Regions from separate parts of the Homo sapiens genome. Here region 2 is linked to region 1. Evidence: fine-mapped expression QTL. Tissue or cell type: whole blood. Region 1 holds a variant in brackets; the other region holds the start of a gene. All regions are shown on one strand. Distances are between the middles of the regions.

Region 1 (8,105 bases):
CCCGGCAGCCACCCTGTCTGGGAAGTGAGGAGCGTCTCCGCCCGGCAGCCACCCAGTCCGGGAGGGAGGTGGGGGTCAGCCCCCGCCAGGCCAGCCGCCCCGTCCGGGAGGGAGGTGGGGGGGTCAGCCCCCCGCCCGGCCAGCCGCCCCGTCCGGGAGGGAGGTGGGGGGGTCAGCCCCCCGCCCGGCCAGCCGCCCCATCCAGGAGGTGAGGGGCGCCTCTGCCCGGCTGCCCCTACTGGGAAGTGAGGAGCCCCTCTGCCTGGCAACCACCCAGTCTGGGAGGTGTACCCAACAGCTCATTGAGAACGGGCCATGATGACAATGGCGGTTTTGTGGAATAGAAAGAGGGGAAAGGTGGGGAAAAGATTGAGAAATCGGATGGTTGCTGTGTCTGTGTAGAAAGAAGTAGACACGGGAGACTTTTCATTTTGTTCTGTACTAAGAAAAATTCTGCCTTGGGATCCTGTTGATCTGTGACCTTACCCCCAACCCTGTGCTCTCTGAAACATGTGCTGTGTCCACTCAGGGTTAAATGGATTAAGGGCGGTGCAAGATGTGCTTTGTCAAACAGATGCCTGAAGGCAGCATGCTCGTTAAGAGTCATCACCACTCCCTAATCTCAAGTACCCAGGGACACAAACACTGCGGAAGGCTGCAGGGTCCTCTGCCTAGGAAAACCAGAGACCTTTGTTCACTTGTTTATCTGCTGACCTTCCCTCCACTATTGTCCTATGACCCTGCCAAATCCCCCTCTGCGAGAAACACCCAAGAATGATCAATTAAAAAAAAAAAAATACTACCACAAGTGCACAAAACTGTACATACAAAGATGTTCACTTATCCCAGCACTTTGGGAGGCCGAGGCAGGTGGATCACCTGAGGTCAGGAGTTCAAGACCAGCCTGACCAACATGGTGAAACCCCATCTCTACTAAAAATAGAGAAATTAGCTGGGTGTGGTGGCAGATGCCTGTAATCCCAGCTACATGGGAGGCTGAGGCAGGAGAACCACTTGAACCTGGGAGGCGGAGGTTGCAGTGAGCTGAGATCATGCCACTGCACTCCAGCCTGGGTGACAGAGTGAGACTCCATCTCAAAAAAAAAAAAAAAAAAGATGTTCATTTGTGCTTTATTATCTATAATGACAAATATAATTTTTTTTTTTTTAGACGAAGTCTCCATCTGTCCCCCAGGCTAGAGTGCAATGGTACGATGGCAGCTCAATGCAACCTCCACCTCCCAGGTTCAAGTGATTCTCCTGCCTCAACCTCCCCAGTAGCTGGGATTATAGGCGCCCACTACCACGCACAGCTAAATTTTCTATTTTTAGTAAAGACGGGGTTTCGCCATGTTAGCCAGGCTGGTTTCAAACTCGTGACCTCAGGTGATCCACTCGCCTTGGCCACCCAAAGTGCTGCAATTACAGGAGTGAGCTACCACACCCGGCTATAAAATTGTCTATAACAACAATACGGAACAGAAGTTAAGAGTGCAGGCTCTAGAATAGACTGCCTATGTTTGCATCTAAGTTCTGACACAGAGTAGTCATGTGCATTTGGGCAATTACATCTCTGTATCTCATCTCTAACTTTCCAGAGTTGTAAGGATTAAATGAGGTAATACATGCCTGTCACACAGTCGATGCTTGACAAACATTAGGTGGTATTATTAAAGAAAAACATTATAAACTACTTAAATGTCCAATAATAGGGAGTTGGTTAGATAAACTGGGATATATCCAATTTAATCCAGTCATTAAAAATGAAGAGGTACTCACCTATAACTTTATACATGGAAAAAAAAAAACCTAGAAATCTAAATACCATACTATATATTTTTTGAGATGGAGTCTTGCTCTGTTGCCCAGGCTGGAGTGCAGTGGCGTAATCTTGGCTCACTGCAACTTCCGCCTCCGGGGTTCAAACAGTTCTCCTGTCTCAGCCTCCCGAGTAGCTGGGACTACAGGTGCACACCACCACGCCTGGCTAATTTTTGTATTTTTAGTAGAGATGGGATTTTGCCATGTTGGTTACACTTGTCTCTAACTCCTGACCTCAGGTGGGCCACCCACCTCGGCCTCCCAAAAGTGCTAGGATTACAGGCGTGAGCCACCATGCTGGGCCTAAATACTATATTAAGACTACCTTCAGGGGGAGGAGCATGGACTTACAGTGCAGAGCTTCTACTTTTTTCCTCTTGAACTGTTCAAATTCTGATTATTTTTGTAACCAGAAACAAAAGCTCTTTTCATTTTGAAAAAGAAGACTCCAAAATGATACATCTTCCTCATGTGGCATCAGAAAACACACTCACTGGGCATTGTTTCCACTGCTTTCCTCATCAATGATCCCAGGCACAGCCTTTCCTGCAGCTCGGCTAATTTCCCTTGAAGAAGAAAAATTAAAATCTAGTAAACAAAAAAAATTTGAGAATTTCACACTGCATTCATTAGTACAGCAAGTATGAGGCTAAGGTGGGAGGATTGCTTAAGCCTGGGAGGTCAAGGCTGCAGTGAACTGTGTTCCCACCACTGCATTCCAGCCTGAGCAACAGAGCAAGACTCTGTCTCAAAAAATACATATATATATAAACAAAAAATAAATTGAATGTGAAGTAAGTTTCAAAAGATGAAGAAAAATAATTTGATGAATGAGTAGTAGTAATATAGTAAAATAAATTATAATAACACAAAACAAAAAGGCAAGAAAGAAGAAAGGGCAGTGAAAAGAATGTATGAGAAGAGACGAGGGAAGATTTATGTAGAAGAAATGAGAGTTATGTGTAAGGATATTTCTGCTTTATTTTTTTTTTGAGATGAAGTCTCGCTCTGTCAGCCAGGCCAGAGTACAATGGTGCAATCTCAGCTCAATGCAACCTCTGCTTCCCGGGCTCAAGTGATTCTCCTGCCTCAGCCTCCCGAGTAGCTGGGATTACAGGCGCCTGCTACAATGCCTGGCTAATTTTTTTTGTATTTTTAGACAGGGAGATGGGGTTTCACCATGTTGGCCAGGCTGGTTTGGAACTCCTGACCTCAAAATGATCCATCCACCTTGGCTTCCCAAAGTGCTGGGATTACAGGTGTGAGCGACGATGCCTTGCCAAGATATTTCTGCTTTCAACATGCTTACCTGTTCAAGACTCCACTGGAAACTAGAGCTTCTTTAGGATGGAAATATTTGTGATATACATTTCTAACCACAGCATCTATGAGGGAAAAAGAGAAGGAGGTATATTTTAGGTTAGAAATAAATTCGATATTATAGACTCATACCAATTTTGACCTGAAGGGCACCCTGGAACTTGGTTCCAATCCATCTCGCTTTATAAATGGAAGCAGCCCAAGCCTAGGAGGCTCAGACTGCTGATGAGAATGGAACATTAAAACACGCACACACAGCCCAGGGCTTTTTCCATTATGCCACTGGACCTAGAGGGCTATGATATCAAATAATAGATAGAAAAGTACTGCCTCTACTGAAAATAATAATACTAATTACCATTATTAACCATGATTCCATATTCTTCTAGTAAAAAGTTAATATTGGTGTCAAATCTGGATTCTCCACCTTCTCCTAGCATCACAAAGACATCTCCACCAGTGTCAAGATATTTCTTCAGGATTTCAAACTACACAAAGGAAAAAAGCAATCTATGAATATACTTGAAAGACTTTTGCCCGAAATACCATGAATAAGACCTTAACTAGATGAAAAATACATATTTCAAATCTATAAGGCATTTACATATAAATGTATATAAGATAAAAAGTACTCTCTATGTAGGATCTCCAAGCTTGTCTTTGAGCATAAAGCTCCAAAATACTCAAAGTAAATTGACAATTTCAAAGCTGACTATCTAGAGAGCAAGTCAAAAGTGAAAAACTTAACTAAAGGAAGCACTCAGTTCTCCATTCAGCAGCACCCCTGGTCTCCACCTACTAGATGCCAGTTGTACCTACCTTCCCCTGGCAACCAAAAATGTCTCTTGAGATTGCCACATGTTCCCTCAGGAGAAGAAGAAATAGAATCACCCCTAGTTAAGAACCACTGATTTAGACAATGCCTTCTCTTGACTGCCCACAGAGGATATCAGGATGAAGTCATTTCATACCACACCTGGGAGGAATTCTGTTCAAGGTCATTGACCAACCAAACCATAGAGAGAAACGCATGTTTTCTGCTTATCTCCTGGAAG[C/A]TCTCTCATTTTCACAAAGCTGGGGAAGGGAGAAAAATCTAGGGTTGATCTTGCTGGTCTAGCCTGAGAAAATCTGGGGTGGGTGGTCCAGACAAATAGTTTCTCAACTTTCTTCATCAAGCACTCCAGCAGAAAAAAATCTGAACATGTATATAAATACATTCAATATGTATGTATCTCTATATAAAATATGTACTTTATAATTCAAAACAACTCCCAAAAAGGAAATGTTTTAAGGGTAATGAAAATATGAATAATAAACATAATTTCCTTTTGGCACCCCACTGATTCATCACATGCATCCTACTTTGGAAACTACTGCCCAGACTAGATTTGCCACAGCACGGCCCTCTCGCTCTTGTATGCTCCCTGAATTTTCCTCTCCCCCTGCCTTCCCCACACTGTATAAAACAAATGAATCTTCAGAGGCCAAGGTAGGCGGATCACTTGAGGTGAGGAGTTCGAGACCAGCTTGGCCAACATGGTGAAACCCCCGTCTCTACTAAAAATGCAAAAATTAGCCAGGCGTGGTGGTATGCACCCGTAGCCCCAGCTACTTGGAAGGTTGAGGGAGGGGAATTGCTTGAACCCAGGTGGTGGAGGTTGCAGTGAGCCGAGATTGCACCACTGCATTCCAGCCTGGGCAACAGAGCAAGATTCCATCTCAAAAACGAAACACAACAAAAAAACAAAACAAAATAAAAAATGAATTATTTCAAAATCAAAATTAAGGCGGGGTGCAGTGGCTCATGCCTGTAATCCCAACAGTTTGGGAGGCTGAGGTGGGTGGATCACTTGAGGTCAGGAGCTCGAGACCAGCCTGGCCAACATGGTGAAACCCCGTGTCTACTAAAAATACAAATAGCCAGGTGTGGGGGCAGATGCCTGTAATCCCCGCTACTCGGGAGGCTGAGGCAGGAGAATCAGTTGAACCTGGGAGGCGGAGGTTGCAATGAGCCGAGAATGCGCCAATGCACTCCAGCCTGGCGACAGAGCAAGACTCTGTCTCAAAATAAATAAATAAATAAATAAATAAATAAATAAATAAAATAAAAATCAGCTCAAAGTCCATTTCCTCTGGACCCAATAATCCAATGCCTCTTTTCTGTGTTTCTGTAGAAATGTGGAACTTAGAACATTGATCATTATTGGTAGATGGTCCATTTGTGTCATTTCCCCTAGACTATCGGTTCCTTGAGTGGAGAGATCATGTGCTATTTGACTTTGATCCCTAGCGTTAGTCCTAGGACCTGTTACTAGGTGTGTAACAGATCCTTAGTAAACATTTTTTGGAACAACAACAGAAAAACAAAACAAATGGGTTATAACTGCATGATCCTGGACCCTGAACAACAGACTGAATCTCTCCCTAAATTCATCTTCCTTTTCCTTCCTTTTGATTTCCTCTCAAACTCCTCTTCCCAGACAGCCCTAAATATATGCTATGTTCTATGACTGATAATAGCAAGCCAGGTCTAGTTTGCAATATATATTCTCAGAACATAGCTTTTGCTTGGGAAATTCTACTGGGACTTGGTTTTCATGATTATGTGGTTCTGGGATTTGTCCATGTTGCCTAAATGCAATGAGTATATAGTAGTTATTGGTATCTACTGTGTCCTATTGGCCATCTGGCATTTTAAGAAAAAGATACATGAAGGATGTGGTGTGCAATAACACAGGTGGGCAAAAGTTGAAGGAGCTTACATGAATTATGACCCAGTTTCCAGCTATACACGTAAGTGAGACCCTTCTAACAAAAGAATGGATATTTGGTACAAACTGGAGGTTTCTTATTTCTTTATGGCAAAAACAGGAAGAAAGATTAATTTTGCAGACTTGAATTTTAGAAATTGGCTTAGAATGCATTCACACTGTTAGTGTGGCAGCAAATGTGAGGTATTTCCTGTAATCGAGACTGGATGATCCAGGCCAGTGGCTCTCAGTGGAGGCATTTAAACCATCTAGCATGTATTCTGGATCACCATAATATTAATATTAATATGGCAAAATATTAATGCCATAATATTAATGTTTAAGGACATTTTAGCGGGTGAAGGGCAGGGAAGTTAAGGTCCTGCAATATTCAGACCAGTCCCACACAGTAAAGAACTATTCCACAGCATTTGAATATCTTCTCAGATAGTCACGGAGGTTTAAAAAAGAAAAAGCAAACAAACAAAAGAAGCTCAGCCTAAAATCTAACTCCAATTTCTTTATTTTTTTTGAGATGAAGTCTTGCTCTGTCACCCATGCTGCAGTGGCTCGATCTCGGCTCACTGCAAACTTCGCCTCCTGGGTTCAAGTGATTCTCCTGCCTCAGCCTCCTGAGTAGTTGTGACTACAGGAGCCTGCCACCACACCTGGCTAATTTTTGTATTTTCAGTAGAGACAAGGTTTCACCATGTTGGCCAGGCTAGTCTCAAACTCCTGACGTCTGGTGTTCCACCCGCCTCGGCCTCCCAAACTCCTGGGATTACAGGAGTAAGCTACTGCGCCCAGCTCAAATTCTATGTAAATACTGTACAAAGTATTTTTTGCACGATTTAACATATACTGAATTCGGAGGTACCCAACTACCATGTAAACTGAGAGAAGAATTATACTCTTTTTATTAACAGAACTTTACCAGAGGCCAAGGCGGGCGGATCACAAGGCCAGGAGATCGAGATCACCCTGGCTAACACGGTGAAACCCCATCTCTACTAAAAATACAAAAAATTAGCCGGGCGTGGTGGTGGGCACCTGTAGTACCACCTACTCGGAAGGCTGAGGCAGGAGAATGGCGTGAACCCGGGAGGCGGAGCTTGCAGTGAGCTGAGATCACTCCACTGCACTCCAGCCTGGGTGACAGAGCAAGACTCCGTCTCAGGAAAAAAAAAAAAAAATAGAACTTTACCAAGAGTTAGTCAGTATTTTGGAAAAATCACATCACCGACAGCAACACGGCTCATGATTTGAATTGCCAATACATCACTTCCACCAGTCTGCATATGTACCTATCCCATTCATCGGAGTTCTACATACTTATTAAACATTTATTTCAAAATGTCAAACATAAAGAAGTGTTCTAATGCATGTATGACCAAGCATTAACAAACTGAAATATGTATATTCTTCTAGTATATATATGCATAAACATTTACAATTTGAAATACACATATTCTTTTATAAATCATCCTTTAATTTCTGTACATTAAAGTTAGGAAGTTATATTGCTTTACTTTTTTAATGGTGGTGGGTTAGATTATCTTTGCATTTCAATTCAGGGTAACAAAGTTGGCATCTGTAATATAGGTGGATGCTGGTCTGTTAGGGTTGGAAAATACTCGTCTCAGCCACGTGGTTACCTGGTCGTAACTGAATACCACCACAAAGCTAGTGTAATGCGTCAATGTAGTTGAGGTGGAAATAAGGAAAGACTGTTCAGCCTAGTTTCTAGCATGATACTAGCATCTAATATCAGACATATGATGTCTGTCCTGTCACAGAAGTTTCTGGAAGTCAACATGAAAAAGGCATCACACAGCTCTCCAGGGGTAACAGTCTAGGAGGCCAGCAGCAATGACAAGGAAAGCAGTGATCTCACAAGCATGAGCCCATTGGAAGAACTGTAACACAAAGGAATGCTGATTCCTAGAAAAAAAGCTAACAGCTTTTTTCCCTTTTCTTCCCACCTCACTCCAACTCTAAAGAGAAGGTATGGTGTCAGGGACTGGTCTGGGAGAGGACGTTTTATTAGGCTAAAGTTACATCAAATTTGCCTCTCGAAGGACTTGTGTCTCTTGGATGCATCAGCCTACCATGCCTGGAAGCCCAAACTAAGGCTTGGCCTGGCACCCATCTCCACTTGGGAAAAGGCCCAGGCACCAGGTTCTGACCCTCTCTTTGGATGCCCCTGTGTTCCTG
Region 2 (8,105 bases), 63 kb before region 1:
CACCAAAAGGGCTTAAGAAATGTTTGCCCAGGGACTGACTGAATATACAAATAAATGAAAAAATGTGCAAAGCTGCTGCCTATTAGTCAATAAGAAATACTAATTAAATTTTTTAGGCCAGGCAAGACCCAATTTCAAAAGAAAAAAATTTTCAGAAATAGGAAAGGAGGGACGGTGTCTACAGTCAGCAATACAGAAGGATCTGGAATTCATTCCTGACCCAGTTCATGGGTCCTCCACCACTTCAATATAGAAGGCAAAAATCCAGAAGATACTAATAACAGAATGAAGTTGGCTTTAAAATCAACTGCCCCCAGACAGCTCGTGACAGAAACCATCTTTGCTTCTCCAGCATCCAGCACAAAGGCCTGGCTTCTAACAGAAGGTCAGCAAATATTCTTTCAAGGATGAAATGATGTCTGCATGGACACTCCCTGGTGCTCCAATGCTGTTTGTTTGTTTGTTTGTTTATTTTGAGATAGAGTCTCGCTTTGTCACCCAGGCTGAAGTGCAGTGGCATGATCTCGACTCACAGCAACCTCTGCCTCCTGGGTTCAAGTGAATTCTCCTGCCTCAGCCTCCCGAATAGCCGCGCTTACAGGCGCCTACCACCACGCCCGGCTAATTTTTGTATTTTTGGTAGAGACGAGGAGTTTCACCATATTGGTCAAGCTGGTCTTGAACTCTTGGCCTCCCAAAGTGCTGGGATTACAGGCATGAGCTACCACACCCAGCCTCCAATGCTGTTTGATAGGGTCAGCATCTCAGACAGCTGGGGCATTTCTGTGAGATGATATACTTTACCATATGTGCTGGCCATCAACTTCACCCACATTCTCATTATCCCCCTTAACAGATGCGGAAATTGAGGCTCAGAGGGGTGAGGCCACCTGCCAAGTTCATAGAGCCAGGCTCTGAACCTTCCTAACTCCAGACACCTGCAAGTCCTCATATCCTAATCCCAGCTGAAAAAGCAGAGTCCAGTTAGTGGTGGCAACCACATTGTGGTCCAACATACCCTACCTTTTGCCCTTCAACGTGCTGGGCTCTGCTCCAGGACAGGGGTGAGTCAGAGACAAAGCGGGAAGTGGGGCACTAGGGCAGAGGAGAGTTACAGCAAGTGGCCAGGAAATGGGCTGAGGGCTGTGGAGCTGCCATCCTTCACACAGGAGGGGTTCCTCCACTGAGCCCCTCATGGGAGAAGTAGCCCAGGACCTGGGGTGGTCTAGAGGCAGTCACTCCTGGAATAACTCTTCCTGAACAAAAAATCAGGATGGCGCCAGGCAAGGTGGCTCACACCTGTAATCCCGACACTTTGGGAGGCCAAGTGGGGGAGAATCCCTGGAAGCCAGGAGTTCGAGACCAGCCTGGGTAACATAGTGAGGTGAGACACAACGCGAGGCCACTCCCGCCCCCTTCCATCTCTACACAAAATAAAACACGCCAGACGCGGTGGCTCACGCCTGTAATCCTAGCACTCTGTGAGGCCAAGGCAGGCGGATTGCCTGAGCAACACAGTGAAACCCATCTCTACTAAAAATCCAAAAAATTAGCCAGGCGTGGCGGCGTGTGCCCATAGTCCCAGGTACTTGGGAGGCTGAGACAGAATTCCTTGAACCCGGGAGGCAGAGGCTGCAGTGAGCCGAGATTGTGCCACTGCACTCCAGCCTGGGCAACACAGAGTGGCTCTGTCTCCTAAATAATTAAATAAATTAGCCAGTTGTGGCGGCCCGTGCCCATAGTCCCAGCTACTCAGCCTGCAGTCCCAGCGGGCTGAGTTGGGAAGATCACTTGAACCTGGGAGGTTGGGGCTACAGTGAGCTATGACAGCACCACAGCACTCCGGCCTGGACTGCAGACGGAGACCCTGCCTCAAAAAAAAAAAAAAAAAAAACCAGGGCAGGGTCTGATAGGCGCCTGAACAGAAAACTCTTCCTGGACATTGGCCTGGGAAAGTGGGGCCTGAGGAACACAGTCCCTGTGCTCAGATCCCTATCCTCAGCCTGAAAGGGCAAAAATCTAGAGGGATGGAAGGCTTCATCTTTAGATGAGGCTATCGTCTAAAGAGGGACCGAAGTTTGGCCGGGCAAGGTGGCTCACGCCTGTAATCCCAGCACTTTGGGAGGCCGAGTCGGGCGGAACACAAGGTCAGGAGATCGAGACCATCCTGGCTAACATGGTGAAACCCTGTCTCTACTAAACATACAAAAAATTAGCCCGACGTGGTGACACGTGCCTGAAGTCCCAGCTACTCGGGAAGCTGAGGCAGGAGAATCGCTTGAACCTGGGAGGCGGAGGTTGCAGTGAGCCAAGATCGCGCCACTGCACTCCAGCCTGGGCATCAGAGCGAGACTCCTTCTCAAAAAAAAAAAAAAAAAAAAAAAAGAGGGAACGAAGGTTATCTGAGCTGCAGCGATCCAGGCAGGGAAGAGGTCAGGACCCCACTGTCCTGTCTCCCAGGCAGGCTGAAAAGCTTGGAGCTCAGGCCCCAGGCGCACAGGTGTAAGACAGGGATCTGGAGCCACAGACCTGGCTCCGGGCTCAGCTCTGCCACTTAAGTCTCTGGGGAAATAAGTAAAATGGAGACCGCAGTTCCTGCCTTTGCCCCAGGGACTCTCTCTCTCCCCCGCACCTTCAACCCCAGCTGCCCAAAACTCCTCGTGGGAACAGGAAGAGAGGTCTCAAACCGAACCAAGCTGGGGCGCGGAACCCAGGTGGGAGAGACAAAAGAGCCCCCAACTCAGCACCCTTCTCAGTCCAGGGGAGAGGGCTTGGGGGACTCTGTGCTCCCCGGAATGTTAAGGAGCAAAGCCCACCCACCAAGTTGACCCAAAACTAGGCTGCAACAAGTGCCTCCCAGGCTCGGTCTCCCACTGGCTGGGACTTGAAGACTCCCTCTCGCTCCCAGGGGTCGCCTCCCTCGCCGGCGAAGGCCCTGCCAGCTGACACCGGCCGGCCCACCCCCATCCCGCAATTAGGCGGGAGACAAAATGACATCATGCACGGCTTGGCCCGGGTCCCAAGAGACCCGCCCGTCCCAGCTCCGAGGCCCAACAGGCCTGGGGAGCCGCGAGGGACGCCCAAGAGCCCCCCAGCTTTACGCGCGCCCCTGCCTCAGAGGGCCCAGGACGCAGCATTTCCGCGGAAACACCCCACCCCCAACACACACACACACCCCAGCTTGGTGGGAGCCTGGGGAGGGTCGGGGGTATCTGGGTGGGGGAGGGGTGAGTTAAAGGGAGGGGGAGGGGCCCAAGCCCTCCCGGCTCGTCTCACCAGCGCGTCCGCCGAGACATCCCCCCGGCCCGGACCGCGCCGCGCTCGCCCGCCCGCCGGCAGAGCCCGGAGCGGGAGCCGGGCCGGGGTCAGGACCCGGGCTGCTCCGGCCGCTCCGGGCCCCGGGCCGCGCTCGAAGGCGTCAGCGTGTCAGCAGGTCCCGCGCTCCTCGCTCGCAGGAACTGCAGTCGCCGCCGGCGCGGGTTGAAGCACTTTTCTATCTCCCGCCAAGCGCGTCGGCGCCGCCCAGTCCTGGCGCGCGGGCGCCGGGGGAGGGGCCTGAGTGAGGGGCGGAGCCAGGGGGCGGGGCGGGGCGGGGCCTGCGGGGCGGCACCTGCCCAGACCCTCCAGGGCCGGCTGCAGGACAGGGGCGGCGGCCGCTACTTCGGAGTTGTGGAGCGGGCCGGGATGTGACCGAGGCCTGGCTCACGTGTCAGTCCGGGGCGGCCCAGGAGTATCCCACATAGCGAAGACCGAGGAAGGGGAGCGAGGCGCGAGCATGGGAGAGCCAGCCAGGGAAAGCGCCAGGGCGGAATCCCCCACGCTAGTCCAAGCCACTACTGGGTCCCTAGAGCCGCACCCTAAAGCGGCTCCTCACCCTACCTGTGCCTCTCCCTGCTTCCTCTCCTGCCTCCAAGAGACCCTCCTTAATAGACTTTATTTTTTGTTGTTCATTTTTCTTAGAGGCAGGGTCTTGCTCTGTCGCCCAGGCTGGAGTGCAGTTTCGCGATCATAGCTCACTGCAACCTCCACCTCCTAGGCTCAAGCGATCCTCCTACCTCAACTCACGGGTAGCTAAGACCAGGCACTCGCCACTACACCCGGCTGATTTTTTTTTTTTTTTTTTTTGAGACGGTGTCTCGCTTTGTCGCCAGGCTGGAGTGCAGTGGCGCGATCTTGACTCACTGCAACCTCCACCTCCCGGGTTCAAGCGACTCCCCCGCCTCAGCCTCCCAAGTAGCTGGAACTACAGGCGCACACCACCACGCCCGGCAATTTTTTTTTTTTTTTTTTTTTTTTTTTAGTATTTTAGTAGAGACGAGGTTTCACCATGTTGGCCAGGATGGTATAGGTCTCCTGACCTCGTGATCCGCCCGCCTCGGCCTCCCAAAGTGCTGGAATTACAGGAGTGAGCCACTGCGCTTTTTTTTTTTTTTTTAAGAGAAGGGGGTGTCTTGCTATGTTGCTGTTGCCTAGACTGGTCTAGAAACTCCTGGGCTCAAGAGATCCTGCCGCTTTGTCCTCCCAAAGTGCTGGGATTGCAGGCGTGAGCTCTTTCCAGAATTTAAAACCATCCTCCTCTCCCTCAGGGTAAATTCCTTACTCCACAATCACATTTATCTGATCTTCCAGACCACCACCCAGCCCTGGCCAAAAGAAACGGCCTCTTTGCCTTTGCCTGAGCCATTACCCAGGGCAGGAACACTTCCTGCCCCTCCCACGTGGCTGATTCCTATTTAATTTGGGGTCCACTGCCCACAATCTGCCTGTAGACTTCTGCATTTCCCCCTTTGAACTGGGAGCATCCTGAGGTCCAGGTGGCCTCTCAATGCACACCAGTATCTCCAGGGCCCAGTAGAAGACCTGACATAAGAAGCCCCAGGCAAAGGTTTGTTGCATTGAATTGTTTACCTTGGGTTTAAACTCCCAGAGATTAGCCCAGATTTAGTGGCTCATGCCAGTAATCCTAGCAGTTTGGGAGGCCGAGGTGGGAGAACTGATTCAGTCCAAAAGTTTGAGACCAGCCTGGGGATCAGAGTGAGACCCTGTCTTTACAAAAAATTAAGAAATTACCTGGCTGTGGTGGTGAATGCCTGTAATCCCAGCTACTTGGGAAGCAGAGGCAGGAGGATTGCTTGAGCCCAGGAGTTCGAGGGGCTCAAGCCCTTGTCATCCCGCCACTGCACTCCAGCCTGGGCGACAGACAGTGAGACTGTCTTTCCTTGAGATTTAGCAAAGGTTTTCTATATTAGATTGACATTTACCAAGTACCAAGGATCAAGTCACACTGGACTTCCTGGGAGCAGTGCTGAGAGGAAGATAAATGAGCTCTGAGACAGGACGCTGAAGAAACCAAATCAAACCCCAGCCTTTTAGCCCCTGTTCAGGCCTCAGAGCCCCCTTCCAGAAGCTGCTGGCCACCTGGGGACAGTCCAGCCACCAGCTGCTGCAAACTTCACTTACCACAGAAGGAAGACTAACTCACATCTTAAGTGCTAGAAGCTTCCACATCACTTAATTCAGGGTTTCTCCCGCCCACTCCCCTTATAAAGTAATTAATGTGGACATGCCCACTTCATTGAAAGCACAGCCTCCACAGCCAAACTTCCTGGGGTTTGAGTCCCAGCTCCACCATTCAGTTGCGGTATCTTAGGCAAATTACTTAACTTTTTTTTTTTTTTTAGACCAAGTCTTGCTTTATTGCCCAGACTGGAGTGCAGTGGTGTGATCTTGGCTCACTGCAACCCCCACTTCCCGGATTCAAATGATTCTCCCACCTCAGCCTCTCGAGTAGCTAGGACTACAGGAATGCGCCAGCATGCCTGGCTATTTTTTGTATTTTTGTAGAGATGGGTTTTCATCATGTTGGCCAGGCTGGTCTTGAACTTCTGACCTCAGGTGATCTACCCGACTCAGACTCCCAAAGTGCTGGGATTACAGGCATGAGCCATCATGCCCAGCCAATTACCTAACTCTTCTGTGCCTCAGTTTTCTCACCTGGAAAAATGGGATTTATCAAAATTTTAGATAGTTTTTAAACTATCAGCCTCCCAAGTAACTGGGGTTACAGGAGCACGCCGCCATGCCCAGCTAATATTTCCAGCCAGCATTCTGTTTATAAATTGTAACTCATTTAATCCTTGTAACAACTCTATGAGGTAGATACTGGGATTATCCTCTTTTAGCAGATGGGAAAACTGAGGCACAGACTTCCCCAAGGTCACAGTGCTAGTAAATGGCAGAGCAGGGATTCAAACCTGGCCTGTCTAGTTCTAGAGTCTATGCTCTTAATCACTATACTTTGTAGGTAATTATAGGATTAAATAAATTAATATGTGTAAAGCACCAAAAACAGTTCCTGGCACATAATGAGAGCTATATTGGCCGGGCACAGTGGCTCATGCCTGTAATCCCAGCAGTTTGGGAAGCTGAGGCGAGTGAGTCACCTAAGGTCAGGAGTTTGAGACCAGCTTGGCCAACATGGTGAAACCCCATCTCTACTAAAAATATAAAATATTAGCCGGGCGTGGCGGCATGCACCTGTAACTCCAGCTACTCAGGAGGCTGAGGCAGGAGAATCACTTGAACCTGGAGGCGGAGGTTGCAGTGAGCTGAGATCGTGCCACTGCACTCCAGCCTTGGCAACAGAGCAAGACTCCGTCTCAATAACCCCAGCCTCCCGAGTAGCTGGGGTTACAGAAGCACTCCGCCACGCCTGGCTAATTTTTTGTATTTTAATAGAGATCGGGGTTTCACCATGTTCCCCAGGCTGGTCTCAAACTCCTGATCTCAGGCAATCCACCCACCTCGGCCTCCCAAAGTGCTAGGATTACAGGCGTGAGCCACCGCGCCCAGCAAAAAAAGAACTATATTACTGTTAGCTATTATTACTACTGTAATTCTTCAGCTGCCCTCACTCTTATCCTTTGAGGTCCACACATTAGTCATCCCATTTCAGGGAGAGGCAGGACCTGACAGCTTGGGCAAGGTATCTGCCCAAAGCAAGAGGCAGGGAACAGCTGCAGAGTGCACTTGCAACCTGGAACTGGGGCCAGTTAACCAATGCCCCAGAGCCAAAGAAGCCTGGAGTCAGTGCTGTGAGTCAGGCAGCAGGGAGATCACCCTAGTGCCAGATGGAATCTGATGATCTCCACACATTTCCTCTCCAGTTATCATCATACCAACAGATATCCCCTGGAGAGAGGATTCCCAGTGTCCCGAGTGAAACCACACCTGGGAGTGGTCCCTGGACTCTGGACTAGTAACATACAGAATTTATCTCTGCTGGGAAACTTTTCCTGAACACGCCCTCCTTGGACAGGGAGGCTCCAGGTATTTGGTTATTCCACAATTTGCCCCAACCCCCAGGCCTGACCCTGTGTTGGGAAGATAAGGGTCAAATCAATTTATTAAATGCTCAGGGCTCAGCACCAGCTTGGACACCAAACACTAATTGATGATAAGTAGAATCACATGGCCCTTCTGGCTGGAGTCTTCCCCCTCCACCTCCAGAGCATCCTCCTTATCATTCTTGTCCTCATCACACTTCCTCCACCATTTTATTTCTCTCTCAAGAGAAAGGACAGCCTGTGCACATTTTAAGCTTCAGACCTTTACTATAGCTTGGCTTCTGGTAGGTACTCATGGAAGGGGTTCTACACATTCCATTTAAATTGAGTGGATGCAATGTTACAAAGCTAACATTTGGGCTGGAGAGTTAGAAAGGCTTGGACCTCAAGTGAGAAAGCTGGGAATGCTAGAGTTTGAATTGTATCTCATAAAATATGGGTCATCAAAAGAGATTCAGGCTGGGCACAGTGGTCATGCCCGTAATCCCAGCACTTTAGAAGGCCAAGGCAGGCAAATTACTTTGAGGTCAGGACTTTGAGACCAGCCTGGCCAACATGGTGAAACCCCATATCTACTAAAAATACAAAAATTACCTGGGCATGGTGGCACAAACCTGCAGTCTCAGCTACTCAGGAGGATGAGGCATGAGAATCACTTGAACCCAGGAGGAGGAGGTTGCCGTGAGCCCAAACTGTGCCACTGCACTCCAGCCTGGGTGACAGAGCAAGACTCTGTCTCAAAAAGAGATTTGGGACCAG

Evidence for each region. PIP is the estimated chance that this variant, and not a neighbour inherited with it, causes the effect.
Region 2: it holds the start of MYBL2, and the variant in region 1 is fine-mapped to the expression of MYBL2 in whole blood (INTERVAL, PIP above 0.99).

The regions. Positions count from the first base shown.
Region 1 is chr20:43,599,284-43,607,388 of GRCh38, reverse strand. It overlaps IFT52 (intraflagellar transport 52), which reads right to left. Exons shown (of 14, transcript NM_016004.5): 4 at 3,500-3,629; 5 at 3,131-3,206; 6 at 2,316-2,387. Among named protein-coding and RNA genes, the nearest start is that of IFT52, 12 kb to the right of the region's middle. RefSeq lists an enhancer at 1-24. The variant C/A (reference allele first, on the strand shown) is at 4,197.
Region 2 is chr20:43,662,475-43,670,579 of GRCh38, reverse strand. MYBL2 (MYB proto-oncogene like 2) reads right to left here and starts at 3,466. Exons shown (of 14, transcript NM_002466.4): 1 at 3,277-3,466. The coding sequence starts at 3,296. RefSeq lists enhancers at 2,561-2,610, 3,377-3,671 and silencers at 3,261-3,640, 3,377-3,671.